2 separate regions of the Homo sapiens genome follow, and region 1 is linked to region 2. A link means that fine-mapping ties the variant in region 2 to the expression of a gene that starts in the linked region. Tissue or cell type: whole blood. Region 2 holds a variant in brackets; the other region holds the start of a gene. All regions are shown on one strand. Distances are between the middles of the regions.

Region 1 (8,105 bases), 61 kb before region 2:
GTACACAACACATAAATACATAGACGTATTAGGCATGCTGATAGAAGTACATCTTATGGATACACTCAGATTATTGATAACCTGCTTCACAACCCTAGGCAGTTGTCAGCTAACTAGCCTTATGTTTGCATATTAAAGGAAACAACTCAGGTGAAAATCAAATAGCAAAATTTACATCATAAGGTACAGAGAGAAAAAGTCTGATGGTGCCAGAGGGAGATGAAAGATGAATGCCAAATCAAACATAAAATTAAAGAAATTTGCCGGGTGTGGTGGTTCATTCCTGTAATCCCAACACTTTGGGGGGCCGAGGTGGGCGGATCACAAGGTCAGGAGATCGAAACCATCCTGGCTAACACGGCGAAACCCCGTCTCTATTAAAAATACAAAAAATTAGCTGGGCGTGGTGGTGGGCGCCTGTAGTCCCAGTTATGTCTGTACTCTCTGGAGTACAGAGATCACCCCACTGTACTCCAACCTGGGTGACAGCGAGACTCTGTCTCAAAAAAAAAAAAACAAAAAAGAAATTTATCATAGGATTGTATAAGGAGACTAGTTTTATTTAGATAAAGGGACTACCTTTTAAGTGGATCTCTGAGCTCTGGGCAGAGCCCACACTGAATCCTGGGTCTCCAAGAAGGGACACTTATTATGAGGTTAGAACACGTGATGCTTTTACAGTGCACTTTTTAAAAAACTTCTTTTAAACAAAGACATTTCTAAGTGTCTAAACCATAGTCTTCCTTAAAAACCCAAGGGTAGGCTGGGTGCAGTGGCTTATGCCTGTAATCCCAGCACTTTGGGAGGCTGAGGCGGGCGGATCATGAGGTCAGGAGATCGAGACCATCCTGGCTAACACGGTGAAACCCGTCTCTACTAAAAATACAAAACAAACAAACAAACAAACAAACAAACAAAAAACAAGCTGGGCATGGTGGCGCTTGTAGTCCCAGCTACTTGGGAGGCTGAGGCAGGAGAATGGCGTGAACCCGGGAGGCGGAGCTTGCAGTGAGCCGAGATTGCGCCACTGCACTCCAGCCTGGGCGACAGAGTGAAACTCAGACTCAAAACAAACAAACAAACAATACAAAAAACAAAAAACAAAAAAACCCAAGGGTAACCTCTGTTGCAATAACTATTTTAGTCAAAAAAAAAAACAAAAAAAAACCCAAAAAAAAACCACAAACAGGTAACAACAATACAAAAGTAAGCAGTTGAAGAGACGAGACGAACTTGCCTGTTTACACTCTGGGGATTGCATAAGAAAAAACAGGTTTCTCCCTTAAAGGGAGCCTGGTGCCTTCTCTGTTCTCTTTAAGGAACCCCAGCTATTATAAACTATTTTAGGTCCCTCATGCAGCAGAGGGTGCAAGAGAAAGGAGATACAGCCGAAGTAAATGAAGAAAACAGAATTCAGTCAACTGAGAAGAAAAAAACTTTCGCTCAAAAAAAGACAAGATTCTTGGAGAAAAACAAAAACAAAAACATGAAGTCCTTTTAAATACAAACACACACACGCACATGCGCACACACACACACACCACACATACACATGCACATCTTCGATGTTAGCTTTTAATTAAGCTGACTTTTAATCATTGAGCTCCTTTAAAAAAATCTTTTAAAATCTCATTACCATATTTCAGCTAGGACAAATTGCTGCTATTTCAGAAGCACAGCCATTGCTCTTTCAGTTTGGCCTGGCTAGCAAAAAGGTGGCCTCGTTGTGTAACTAAAGCCACTTAGTAGTCAAAATAAAAAATCTTTCCTTTTTTTTTTCCTTTTGCTGGCTGTTTTTCACCCCCTATCACATCATCCTTTGTGTATGTGTGTGTGTGTGAATTTAGCCACTTCAGAGGCCTTGTTCCCCATAATTTGGGACTTCCTTTGTATTTGATCAAGTCAGATAGAGTTGATCAAACCCAATGGGAAAAAGACTGAAAGAACAACAAAAAGAGAAATGAACAACAACAAAACAGTTAAGCAAAACAAATGATCACACAATTTATATGATTACTAAGCTTTCTAGTGGTAAGGAGAAATTAAGACCAGCTGGTTGTAATCTTAACTTTAGCCAAAACAAACCCCAATTCAGTTACTTACCTAGGGATGGGTTTCAGGCTGAAGACTGCTCTCTACCATCCTAGAAGCAGGGAAAAACCCTCATCTTCCCTGTTGGTTGCGAGCTCAAACACCATAAAGGAGTTACCTGCCTTCCATCAACATGGAAGCAGGAAAAATTTGCCTTCCTTGTGTTAGAAGCAAGTAAAACTCCAAAAAAAAAAGAGGAGTTGTACAACAAAATGAACTTTAGATCTTGACCAGATTTTGAAAGATAAGGTATTCTCTGGAGGGTGTGCTTCCGGGCCTCAGCAAATTGTCCTATTGGTTTGAGCCATAAAGATAGCTCAAGCTGGTACCAAGCACTGATAGCTTTGTCAAAGGTCAGGGGCGCCTCCAGTCAGAATTCTTCTGTGGTTACCAAAATATGAACCCCCCAAATCTGAGAAAGGTCTCAGTTAATTTAGAAAGTTTATTTTGCCAATGATGATGGTGTGACACAGCCTCAGGAGATCCCAATGACATGTCCCCAAGGTGGTCAGAGCACAATTTAGTTTTATACATTTTGGGGAGACTTGAGACGTCACTCAACATACGTAAGATGAACATTGTTTGGGTCTGGAAAGACAGGGAGGGGGCTTCCCGGTCATAGGTAGATAAGAGACAAATGTTTGCATTCTTTTGAGTTTCTAATTATCCTCTCAAAAGGAGGCAATCAGATATGCATTTAGCTCAGTGATCAGAGGGGTGACTTTGAAAGAATGGGAGGCAGGTTTGCCTTAAGCAGTTCCCAGCTTGACTTTTCCCTTTAGCTTAGTAATTTTGGGGGCTCAAGATATTTCCCTTTCAGACCTCTTCAGTAGAATTCTTTCTTCTGATGAGGCAAGCATTGAGTTTTATGTAGACCTGTATGGATTTCCCACCACTCACATGAAGACCATGACCTGTGACACATTCCCTGGAGGTCCTGAGAACATGTACCCAAGGCAGTTGAGTTACAACTGGTTTTATACAGTTTAGGGAGGCATCAGACAGTAATCAATATAAGCAGGGTATGCATTGGTTCCTTCTGATTGAGGGAGGAGCTTACAGGTCATAGGTGAATTCAAAGACTTTTCTGATTGGCGCTGGGCACGGTGGCTCACACTTGTAATCCCAGCATTTTGGGGAGCCAAGGCGGGTGGATCACTTGAGGTCAGGAGTTCGAGACCAGCCTGGACCAACATGGTGAAACCCTGTCTCTATTAAAAATACAAAAATTAGCTGGGCATGGTGGCACTCCTGTAATCCCAGCTACTTGGGAGGCTGAGGCATGAGAACAGCTTGAACCCAGGAGATGGAGGTTGTAGTGAGCTGAGATCACGCCACTGCCTGAGCAACAGAGTGAGACTCCATCTCAAAAAAAAAAAAAAATTTCTGATTTTCAATTGGTTGAAAGAAGTTATTATCCAAAGACTTGGAATCTTGGTATACAACAACAAAATTTTTTTTAAATAAAAAATTTTAAAAAAGACAACCTGGAATCAATAGAAATAAGCATCTGGGTTAAGATAAGGAGTTGTGGAGACCAAGGTTCTTTTTTTTTGAGACAGAGTCTCGCTCTGTCGCCAGGCTGGAGTGCCGTGGTGCGATCTCAGCTCACTGCAACCTCCACCTCCTGGGTTCAAGCGATTCTCCTGCCTCAGCCTCCCAAGTAGCTGAGACTACAGGCGTGTACCACCATGCCCAGCTAATTTTTGTATTTTTAGTAGAAACGGGGTTTCACCATGTTGGCCAAGAGGGTCTCTATCTCTTGACCTCGTGATCCTCCCACTTTGGCCTCCCAAAGTGCTGGCATTACAGATGTGAGCCGCTGCACCCGGCCCAAGGTTCTTATTATGTAACATAGATGGTAAATGTCTAAGGCGTTAAAAGGTGCCAGACTCTTAGTTAAATCTCCCTTAGATCAGGATAAAACCTGGAAAGAGGCTGGACGCGGTGGCTCATGCCTGTAATCCCAGCACTTTGGGAGGCCAAGGCAGGTGGATCACGAGGTCAGGAGTTCAAGACCAGCCTGGCCAAGATGGTGAAACCCTGTCTCTACTAAAAATAGAAAAATTATCTGGGCACAGTGGCAGGCACCTGTAATCCCAGCTACTTGGGAGGCTGAGGCAGGAGAATCGCTTGAACCCAGTGGGTGGAGGTTGCAGCACGCTACTGCACTCCAGCCTGGGCCACAGAGTGACTCTGTCTCAAAACAAAACAAAACAAAACAAAAAACCTGGAAAGGGGAGGGGATTCTCTACAGATTCTAGATTTTCCCCACAAAAGACAGCTTTTTGGAGCTATTTAAAAAAAAAATCAGAGGAATATATTTTGGGGGTAAAATACATTGATTTCTTTCAGGGCCTGCTATCTGTCAGGTGATGCTAGAGTCAGGTTGGAATTTGGTATCTTATTGCTACAAAGAGTCTGTTTTGTGTCTTAAGATCAGAATGCCTTAAGGTCTCTGTTTTAATGTTAATGCTGGTCAGTTGTGTCTGAATTCTAAAGGAAGGAGGGGGATAATGAGGCTTGTCCTAAACCTCTTCCCATCACAGCCTGAATTAATTTTTCAGGTTTATTTTGGAATGCCCTGGGCTGAGAGGGAGGTCCATTCAGTCGGTTGGGAGGCTTAGAATTTTATTTTTGCCTTACAGTTTCCCAAAACGTCCAGTGAACCTCGCCTCTCCTTTAGAAGTGTCGTCCCTGGAGCCCACGAAAATGTCTGCAAGATCTGCAAGGGCCACCTTAAAGCCCGTGCCACCTTAAGCAGGCCCCACCCCTGGCCTAGCCAATGGGCTGACAGCAGCAGTAGCTGCTGCCACAGTAGCTGACTGGTCACCCTGCCACCCAGTGCTCACACCCTCTGGCCAGTGCCTGGCTATGGCCCGACTGCTCAGGTCTGCAACCTGGGAGCTGTTCCCCTGGAGGGGCTACTGCTCCCAGAAGGCAAAGGTACCGGGAGAGAAGAGAAGTCCTCTGGAGGGATGAGGTGGGGAGCGGGGAGCAGGGGGTTCTGATCCCAAGTTTCCTGGGCTCTGTGACGCCCCAGCACCAAGTGACCTGACCTTGGGCAAAAGGGCACTGGGCTTACCCTGTGGCAACTGTGGGTGGGTGTAGAGTGAGATCAGCTGAGTCCCCACTGCTACCATGAGTGGGGCTGGGGGAGTCAAATGGATGCCCCTGGAATAAAACACACCTGTGGAAGAAGGCCCTGAAGGAAAGGGCCTGGGTTCCAGGCCAGGCTCTGTCCTTAACTTGGCCTCCATTTCTCATCTGTAAAATGGGAAGAAACACATCCCCCGCCCCGCCGCGCCCCGCCCCCCACGAAGGGCCCAGAAGCCCCAGGCAACGTAGAGTGGGGAGGGGGCAGTGGAAGCTTTTCCTCCCCCTAATTCCCTTATCAAGCTCTGAGTTCCCTGTGGCTGGGGTGGTGCTTGGTTGGCCCTGGAGAAAGGAGGAAGTGAGGGATCTTTTCGGTTGCTCAGGCTGGGCTGGCTATTGAAGGAACCCTGCTGATAGCCTTTTTGGAGAGTGAATTCTGGTTTTTTATTTGGATGGCTGGGCGCTGTGGCTCACGCCTGTAACCCCAGCACTTTGGGAGGCCGAGGCAGGTGGATCGCTTGAGCCCAGGAGTTTGAAACCATCCTGGGCAACATAGTAAGACCCTGTTTTTATTAAAAAAGAAAACATTAAAAAAATTCTGGTGGCGTTTTTTTCTGAGGGGAAACTTTGACCCCCAATGGCTCTGTTTGGAAAAGAGGCATTTCTGGATAGTGGGTTTGTTTAAAGTGGGCCCACCTGGCAAGGATGTTGTCAGCGGGGCGGGCGCAGGGGAGGCTCACTCCAGCCTCCAGCCCCCAGCCCTCCCCCCGACACTGGGGCAGGGCTGTGGCCCCATGTGTCTTTCGGGGGACCCTGGCAGTGTGTTTCTTCCCTGCAGGGAGAGCTCTGCAGGGACTTCGTAGAGGCTCTGAAGGCCGTGGTGGGCGGCTCCCACGTGTCCACTGCCGCGGTGGTCCGAGAGCAGCACGGGCGCGATGAGTCGGTGCACAGGTATGGGAGGGTTCGCGGGCCCCTCCCCTGTCTTCTGGATTCAACCCCAGCTGAGAGAGAGGGTGCTGGGTTGCCTTCCTCCTCACTCATCTGTTTTGGGGTGCTCTGGCATGTTCTCTGCCCCTCGCTTGCTGTAGCCTCAGGCCCTGCAACACCTCGGGACCAGAGGGTGTCACGCCCCGCTAAATCGCTGAGGGTCTGGTTCTAGGTGCGAACCTCCTGATGCTGTGGTGTGGCCCCAGAACGTGGAGCAGGTCAGCCGGCTGGCAGCCCTGTGCTATCGCCAAGGTGTGCCCATCATCCCATTCGGCACCGGCACCGGGCTTGAGGGTGGCGTCTGTGCTGTGCAGGTACAGTGGGGCTCCCTCGCCCGGCCCGAGGATGGTCCCAGCACACCTTGGCACACCTGTGGCTGCCTCCCCCGCCACACACGGCACCTTGGGTCTGCTCCCGCCCGTGGGCTGCCTGCCTCTGGGGGTCTGGTCTGGCTGCTGGGGGGACACCCGCGGGGTGTGGTCCGGGGACGTGGCCAGGTCAGAGACCCAGGTCTGCAGTGGTCTTAGCACCTGCCCCAACCAGGGCGGCGTCTGCGTTAACCTGACGCATATGGACCGAATCCTGGAGCTGAACCAGGAGGACTTCTCTGTGGTGGTGGAGCCAGGTGTCACCCGCAAAGCCCTCAACGCCCACCTGCGGGACAGCGGCCTCTGGTTTCCCGTGGGTAGGACTCGCGAACCTTTCCTGGGACCCTGAGGGCACCGTGGGAGCAGGGCTGTGTCTGGGGTTCAGGGGACCTTCCTCCCCCAGCCCGAGGGAAAGGACCTCCGGTCCCTGAGGCTGCCTTCTGTACGCCGCCCTCCAGACCCAGGCGCGGACGCCTCTCTCTGTGGCATGGCGGCCACCGGGGCGTCGGGGACCAACGCGGTCCGCTACGGCACCATGCGGGACAACGTGCTCAACCTGGAGGTGGTGCTGCCCGACGGGCGGCTGCTGCACACGGCGGGCCGAGGCCGGCATTTCCGGTGAGCGCCCTCTGCGGGGGGCCCGGGCTCTGGCCCTGGGCACTGCTGGCGGGCTGCCCTGCAGAGACCGGGCTGTGAAAAGCACCTCCTGGCGGCCCCCTGGTTTGGCAGGCTAGGCTTCCTCAGGCTCTGAAGCCCTGTCAGCTGGGCCAAAGTGGATGGGACCAGGGTTTGCTCTCCCTGCCTGAGGCCGACTGGCTTTGTGGAGCAGAAAGCACTGGGCCAGGGAAACTGGGCCCGAGGGAGGCCAGCCCAGACCTCAGTGCCTGGGGTCGGTGTCTTGGGTTCCAGCTTCGGCTTCTGGCCAGAAATCCCTCATCACACAGCCTGGTACTCACCTTGTGTGTCCCTGGGACGTAGGAAGAGTGCAGCCGGCTACAACCTCACGGGGCTCTTCGTGGGCTCCGAGGGGACGCTGGGCCTCATCACAGCCACCACCCTGCGCCTGCACCCTGCCCCTGAGGCCACAGTGGCCGCCACGTGTGCGTTCCCCAGTGTCCAGGCTGCTGTGGACAGCACTGTACACATCCTCCAGGCTGCAGTGCCCGTAGCCCGCATTGGTGAGCTGAGGATGGGGGCAGTCAGGGTGGGCTCCCTGGAAGAGGCCCCCTGGGAAGGCCAGGCCTCACCTGGCCTGCCATCTCCCTGGATCCAGAGTTCCTGGATGAAGTCATGATGGATGCCTGCAACAGGTACAGCAAGCTGAATTGCTTAGTGGCGCCCACACTCTTCCTGGAGTTCCATGGCTCCCAGCAGGCACTGGAGGAGCAGCTGCAGCGCACAGGTATGCTGGGGTGGAGTGGGGCAGCAGGGTGGGCTGCCTCAGTGGCGGCCCGGTGTCAGCCCCCCTTCCCCAACTGCAGAGGAGATAGTCCAGCAGAACGGAGCCTCTGACTTCTCCTGGGCCAAGGAGGCCGAGGAGCGCAGCCGGCTTTGGACAGCACG
Region 2 (8,105 bases):
CAAAACATCTCATGTACCCCATAAAAATGCATACCTACTATGTACCCACAAAAAATGTATTACTATTTTTTTTAATCAGAGCTTCATATTAGGATCTGAATTCGTTAGTGTCCCCTGAAGGGGAGTCACCACTGCACAGCCTTCTTGAGAACTTCCTTCCCTATTTTCTTAGCCTCCTCCTCCTCACGAAGTTACAAAACTCCAGTACCCTCATAGTACAGGGGAGAAATAGAGATGACCTTGGAATTCTACCATCAAAATCAAAGCTGCGGCCAAGATTAAAATCCAAGTTTCTGGCCGGGCGCGGTGGCTCACGCCTGTAATCTCAGCACTTTGGGAGGCCGAGGCAAGTGGATCACTTGAGGTCAAGGAGCTCAAGACCAGCCTGGCCAACATGGCAAAACCCCATCTCTACTAAAAATACAAAAATTAGCAAGGCAGGGTGGTGTGTGCCTGTAATACCAGCTACTTGGGAGGGAGGCAGGAGAATCGCTTGAACCTGGGAGGCGGAGGTTGCAGTGAGCCGAGATCACACCACTGCACTCCAAGCCTGGGCGACAGAATGAAACTGTCTCAAAAAAAAAAAAAAAAAAAAAAAAGATTTTCTGAGTCTGGTATGCTAGGGTGGATTTCATGGTCATTGTGCTCAAATGTAGAGATAGGATATATTTCCCTGCTCCTGCCACAGGCAAGGTGGGACTACCCTAACTTAGAAAACTGTCGGCCGGGTGCAATGGCTCATGCCTGTAATCCCAGCACTTTGGGAGGCAAGATGGGCGGATCACAACGTCAGGAGTTTGAGACCAGCTTGGTCAATATGGTGAAACCCTGTCTCTACTAAAAATACAAAAATTAGCCAGGTGTGGTGATGCGCGCCTGTAGTTCCAGCTACTCGGGAGGCTGAGGCAGGAGAATCACTTGAACCTGTGAGGCGGAGGTTGCAGTGAGCCGAGATCGTGTCACTGCACTCCAGCCTGGGCAAGAGAGTGAGACTCGCCTCAAAAAAAAAAGAAAAGAAAACTGTCACTTCACCTTGGTTTGTAACGGCAAGTCCAAGTGCTCCTGGGTTTCTACAACTGAGAGAAGCTCCTAATATCCTGGGCTGTACCAAATAATCAAACGAGGTCTAGTCATAAAATCCTAGTCAAATTGTCTGTCTGATCCCCTAGACTTTGTAAAGGAGTGAAGAGAGAAATGAGATGAAGGAACATAAAGAATGTAACTTCAAGGGTCAAATGAAACAAAGCCGGCCTGAAGGAGAGAAAGGAGCGGTCAAATCCATCAGCCTAAGACCTTTAGTCCATGTTTAAATTGATTTATACAATTTCCAAACATTACAGGTAGAGTAAAAACTTCGAACTTTTGGCTCCAAACACTTCTCTGCTCACATTCAGAAATGGAAGGATCAGATAAGACCTGAGAACAAACTTCAAGAGATAGATGGGAGTCTTTTTGATGGCTGAAAAACCGGTTCCTACGAGATCTGAGCCATTTCGTCACAAACAAAAGTAAGAAGATGGGTAGTTTTCTCTGATACCCCCACTGCATCTGAGATTTCTCATGCTTTATCTGAATTCATTATGCTGTTCTTTTTGAAAATCCAAGATATCCAGCCTGGCTAACATGGTGAAACCCTGTCTCTACAAAAAATACAAAACTTAGCCAGGCGTGGTGGTGCATGCCTGTAGTCCCAGCTACTTGGGAGGCTGAGGCAGGAGAATCGCTTGAACGGAGGAGGTGGAGGTTGCAGTGAGCCAAAATTGCGCCATTGCACTCCAGCCTGGGGGACAGAGTGAGACTCTTTCTCCACAAAAAAAAAAAAAAAAAGAAAAAAAAAAAAAAAGAAAGAAAGAAGGAAAGAAGGAAGGAAAGGAAAAGAAAAGAAAAGAAAAAAGAAAATCCAAGATATCTGGGGCCAAGCCTACAAGGGCAAAGGGTAGCTGCAAAGTCCTGACACCTACTCTCAAAACAGTCCGGATGGTTGGCAGTTCCTCTGGCTCTTCCTAGAGCAGGCAGGCCTGACACATTCTGAGGCTTCCTTCACTGCTCCCAGATGCTCACACAGCTGGGGATCAAGGCCAGTATCTAGTTGTTTATATTCAAGTATGAAAAGCCTGGCGGGTAGCAGCCCCTTGGAAGGGTAACATTTGGCAGCAGCTCATCAACAGTCCAAGGAAAACACAAGGTGGTCAAACACTCTCAACTAAGGCACACAGAAAGCCCAGCGCATCTCCTGGGGGATGAGACCGATTTATTTAAAGGACAAACGGAAAGGAACCACGAGGATGTGGAACAACTCTCCTGAGTCCAACCAGCAGAGCAAGATGAGTACCAACACCCACTGCCATCTACCCTCCACCTAGTCTGTCATCAGGTTACCAAACTCAACCCAAATCCCTTTTCCAAAGCAGCGTGATGAGGTTTGCTACTTACTTTCTGCCCAAGTCCTGGGAGCCCTGTTGTCCAGTAGGGCTATGATTCCTCTTTAACTGATCCCCACTATGGCAGTCATTTCTGGTCTAGAGTAGTTGTCCCATCTTTAACAATTTATCTCATTCTTTTGAGAGGCCTTGGCTACTCTGTTATTCTCCTTAGTTCCTGCTGACTGCAACAGTGTTGGGCCAGCAGGTTTGGGGAAATAATCCTTGGGTCTAACATTTATTGTGTTATTCTTAGAGTGCTCCTTGCAAGCAAAGCTACTGAAAGCCAAAGTAGAAAAAGCTGCATATAATGGATGAGAACAGCTCACCTCAAGGGACCAGCCACAGCGCTCCTCAGATCTAAACGCTCCCGCACAGAAAGCAAAGGAGCGTCCATTGTGGCACATGCTTGTAGTCCCAGGCAGGCTGAGGTGGGAGGACTGCATGGGACCAGGAGTTCGAGATCAGCCTGGACAACATAGTGAGACCACCCCCCCGTCTCTAAAATAATAAAATAACATAAAATATTTAAAAAAAAAAAAAAAAGAAAAGGAAAGGAAAAAGGGCAGGTCAAGTATCAGTGTATTTAGAGGACCAGAAAGGATGGAATGCGGTTCTCTCTCAGGCCTCATATTTGTTGAGAAGGTTTACAACAGCAGTGGTCCCTACTTTTCTCCACACACAGCCCACCATGTATAAACAGCAATTTCTGGGTGGGCGTGGTGGCTCACGCCTGTAAACCCCAGCACTTTGGGAGGCTGAGGCAGGTGGATCACCTAAGGTCAAGAGTTCACGACCAACCTGGCCAACATGGTAAAATCCCATCTCTACTAAAAATACAATAATTAGCTGGGTGTGGTAGTGCACACCTGTAATCCCAGCTACTCTACTCAGGAGGCTGAGGCAAGAGAATCACTTGAACCCGGGAGACGGAAGTTGCAGTAAGCTGAGGTTGTGCCACTGCGCTCCAGCTGGGGTGACAGAGTGAGACTCTCAAAAAAATAAAAATGAAAAATACATAGCAGTTTCCAAGGCAGAAGGAAAGAACCAATTCCATCGAATTTCTTGCAAAGCAGCTGTTATGACGATCCTGAGGCCAGGGAAGATGAATCCCTTATTTATAAAAATGAAAGCGGTCAAGATAGCACCTGTAAGACCAGAATGAATCTGGTCACTCTGCTACACCAAACAGGCCAAGCCCCTGGCTAAGGAATAAATTGCTTCTTAAGGAGCTTTTCTTAATCTGGCACCTCTTTATCCAGGACCAAATCAATATATTAAAAAAAACTCCAAGTGTTGATCAAACCTGGTGACTCTAGCAGAGCAAAGAAGAAAACAAAACTGTCACCATCTGTATTTGTATTAGAATAACCTTACTAAATTCCATTTATATTAGAAATCTGGCATGAATAAGCAACAAACAAGCACGTGAACTACAATGGAGTCAAAGGAGCAGGGACATGCAGCAGGAC[G/A]GCAGGGTGGGGGTATTCCAAGATGCCCCGGTAGTACCTGATTCTGAATGAGAGAAACCCCCAGGAGATTCTGAACAAATCTGAAAGAAAATGCAACAGCATTACGGTACTCTGTATGGAGAAATGTCCATCAAAACAAGACTCTAAATCTGTAATACCAACTACCCAAGAAACTGAACTAGAGGATGCCACAGGCCTGAATGCATCAGGAGAGGAATCTAGTGGCATTAAAAAGTCTTTTCCTGACCAGGCGCAGTGGCTCAGGCCTGTAATCCCAGCACTTTGGGAGGCCAAGGCGGGTGGATCACATGAGGTCAGGAGTTCAAAACCAGCCTGGCCAACATGGTAACTTCTTAAGTTACCCCATCTCTACTAAAAATACAAAAATTAGCCAAGCATGGTGGCACACACCTGTAATCCCAGCTACTAGGGAGGCTGAGGCAAGAGAATCACTTGAACCCAGAAGGTAGAGGTTGCAGTGAGCTGAGATCATGACATTGCACTCCAGCCTGGGTGACAAGAGGAAAACTGTCTCAAAGGAATAAAAAAAAAAAAGGTTTTTCCATGAACCAAGTCCTTGAAATGAAAATGATCTATCCTCTCACATCATGATACTTGTGAACTTCAGTATCTGTATCTTCAGTATTTTTGTCCAAACATACAGTTTCCATTCTTGTCAGAGGACCAATACCAGATTTGTCAACCAAGAAAGGTAAACATCAACCTCACACATAACATCAACATCATACATAATCTTATACCTCACTTTTAAACCTATTCTTTTCAGAACCACTAGAACTTATGAGCAGTACTGTCATTGAAAACGATGGAATCTTCCACCATACTCAACCCTTTCAGGGCCTCTGGCCAGAGCTGCCTGATGAAAATGTGAATGAACACACAGTCACTAGGCTTACACGCTGGGCTGAATAGAATGAAACTGATCCTTTTACAGTTCAACTTTCTTAAGCCCATACCTCTTAAGAAGAAGATTCCAATTCATCCTTATGGATCCTTAAACTTCAAACTATATATAAAAAGGAGTCTTAATGTGATATGGGGAGAGGCACCTGCAGAACTGACCATCAGCTATCAATGGCTAAAATGATTACAGTCCTCAGAATTTTCTCCAAAGGCAAATATGCCCCATTACATAGAAATACAACATGCCTGCTCAGCAAAGGAATTGAGGTAAATTCTGAGCAGCTGAGGGATAGCTTGGATCACTGGTTGGCAAATGTCTTTATCGAGGAAATACTGGAACAGAAACATTGATGGTTTTCTTAGAAGACCCTCTTGGTCCTTCAAGGATGTGCCCAGTTGGAGACAAGGCCAGCTTTCCCAGGTAATGCTACTTTTAGTAGGAAAGGCAATAACTACCCCCACAAGACTGAGTGTTTATGCTGTTTTTCTTCTGTAAAATCAAAGATCTTTAATCTCTAAGGTCACTTGGAAAGCGTGGTAGGGTCCCGAGGTCAAGTCTGCAGCATTCTTATGCCTTTCCAGCAGAAATGAGACTCCACAGGCTGGTAGGAAGGAGCTCCTTCTTCCAGGCAGGCAGCTGGTGTGTCCACAATGCTCTGTGGGCAAAGGAAGGAAAAGGCCTCTCATAGGGAGACGAGCAATGCCTGTCATCAGGCCTGCAGTCTACCCAAGACTCCAATGTTTGAGGACAGAACACGACCTACTCCTGGGCTGGTAGCATGGAAAGTGCTGGAACCAAGTTCTTCACAACAAAGACATCCAATAACTTAGGGCACTGGTTCTGCTGCAAGAAGGTGAGATTCTACATCATACATTGGGGACTGGAAAGACAGAATGGATACACACAAATGAAGGAGTGGTTCTAAATTCTAGTAAGCCTGGGTGATACAGCGAGACTCCGCCTCAAAAATAAATAAATAAAAATAAATAAGTTCTAGTAAGCCAGTGTTGCCACTTTATTTAAACCTGAGAAACAGTTCCTTTAGAAAGCATTAAAATGGGAGCAATGGAAAGAGTCCAAATGACGTTCCCACACTTCTCAATTCACTCCCTGCATCAATGCAGCATGGGGTGATGCCTGGCCCTGCTTGTTGGGAGAGGAAAGCCATCTCTTTACAAACGAACGCCTGCCCACCCAGTCTGCCTGTTACAAAGGGCCGTCTTTCTGAATTTGTTCTAGAGAGCTGATATGATCACAGTAACAGTTTCATTAGGACACCCTGCTCCTTTAATTTCTGCTCTAAAACAAGACAGCTAGACAGGAGAAAAGACCAAGAAGAGAGTCAGATCCTCCTGTTTGGACTTGACCTGTAAGAAAGGCTAGAGACAAGAAGGGCTGGGATGGTCCCAGTGATGTGGGCAGTGAAGGCCAAAGCACCATTGCCATGGAGCAATTCCCACATTCCTAGAGAAGCCACGCTCCACGTGAATAGGTAAGGCCAATCTCCCAGGAGGATTAGTATCAGGGGAGAAATCAAGAAATGCTAACACAGAACTTAGCTTGAGAAAACAGCCAGGGGAGAACAAAGTGCCAGTATTACCTGATTGCTAAATTATTAAATTGCTGCTTAGGCTAAAAAGCAATGGTTCCTTAGGCCCTGAATTAAAGGCACCTGACACAGACCAGCATGAGGACTGAGAAGCCCACATAGTGACCTCCACTCTGACCATACCCAGCTTTCCCCCACTTCCCTGCAGACCCTATGGAGAAATCTGCCCAGAGAATCAGGCAGGAAAAGATGAGCCAGTGCCTGGCTTGTCCCTTGAGCCACCAAAGTCAACAAAGCAGACAGAACTGGCAGGGTGCCAGGGAGGCAAAGTGGCATCAGCTTCTCCCAGCAGGGCCACGCCTCACCACAAATGGACTTTTAGAACAAGAGTACCCTACCCTCACAACAAAGGTCACTGCATTTATTTTCCTTCTCCAAAGCAAAATGGCTGAAGCCAGGAACTGCACTTCTGGTCAACACAGTTAAGGTCCTTCCCACTCTGAAAGACAAAATGCACTTTGCTTGTTGAAACACAGCAGGATGAGGATTTTCCACATGGGCTTCTGCCTTTTTCACAGGAACCACGAAACCAGAGGAAACTAAGGGTCCTTGCTTAGGGCCTTGGGGGAGTACAAAGGGAATTGTCAACAAGGAAGGAAGAAATAATCTCAAATGGCATCAGTCCTATTCCCTGAAGGGGAAGACACATAGTTCATACGAAAAGTAAAGTTTTGACCATGGCTTGGGAAGACTCTGATCACCAAAGGGAATATGTAACAAAGAACTTGCGTGGCCACAATGAGCCAAAGCCAGCAGAGGTGACCTGAACAGGGAGTACAGGAGCCCAGGAACAACCTGGGAATACCCTAAAGGCTCTTTTCTAAAGTCTAGACTTTCTCCAAAATGTGATGTGTACACACCAAAGTACAAACTGAAAAGACATTTTCTGAGCTTGTGAGGAAATTACTACTTATGTGAGTCCACTCTGCTTATTTAATAGGTGGATGTGTTTTACAGCATGGGGCACATCTATCATGGGCATTAGGGAAGCTCACAAATAGCCCCTGATAGTGACAGCCACTGGACATTGGTGATTTTTTTTTTTTTTTTTTTTTTTGAGATGGAGTCTCGCTCTGTCACAGAAGGCTGGAGTGCAATGGTGTGATCTCGGCTCACCGCAACCTCCGCCTCCCAGGTTCAAGCGATTCTCCTGCCTCAGTCTCTTGAGTAGCTGGGACTATAGGCGTGTGCCACCAGGCCTGGCTAATTTTTGTATTTTTAGTAGAGACAGGGTTTCACCATGTTGGCCAGGCTAGTCTTGAACTCCTGACCTCAGGTGATCCACCTGCCTTGGCCTCCCAAAGTGCTGGGATTACAGGCATGAGCCACTGCACCCAGCCATTGGCGATTTTTATGTTTTTAGCTGGAGTCCTCAAGTTAGAGAACAAAAATGCTTTTCTGACCCTCTATTCCCACCTTATATGTATATTTAGATAATTGATGTTTAACTTTAAGGTTCTAGCCACCCACCTGAACCAGTTTTATTATGTGGGGTGGGAAGTGAGATAAAGCCCCCTAGATTTCCTCTGCGATCTATAAATAGAGCTTCAGGAAGGCAATCAGCCTACCTAGGGCAGGAATTTCAGTCCATTTGCTCAGGAGGCTCCTCCCTCACTTCCAATCCAGAGGCCCCATGGAGCTAAGTCAGAGGGCGCCGATTCACATCATGTCCCCAGTGG

What was found. PIP is the estimated chance that this variant, and not a neighbour inherited with it, causes the effect.
Region 1: LDHD starts here. The variant in region 2 is fine-mapped to the expression of LDHD in whole blood (INTERVAL, PIP above 0.99).

The regions. Positions count from the first base shown.
Region 1 is chr16:75,113,581-75,121,685 of GRCh38, reverse strand. It overlaps LDHD (lactate dehydrogenase D), which reads left to right and starts at 4,906. Exons shown (of 11, transcript NM_194436.3): 1 at 4,906-5,037; 2 at 6,026-6,138; 3 at 6,347-6,488; 4 at 6,718-6,859; 5 at 7,001-7,160; 6 at 7,521-7,720; 7 at 7,816-7,944; 8 at 8,024-8,105. The coding sequence starts at 4,966. It also overlaps a transcript of ZFP1 not described here. RefSeq lists an enhancer at 5,381-5,675.
Region 2 is chr16:75,052,968-75,061,072 of GRCh38, reverse strand. All of the region lies in intron 1 of ZNRF1 (zinc and ring finger 1), which reads right to left. Among named protein-coding and RNA genes, the nearest start is that of ZNRF1, 58 kb to the right of the region's middle. The variant G/A (reference allele first, on the strand shown) is at 3,893.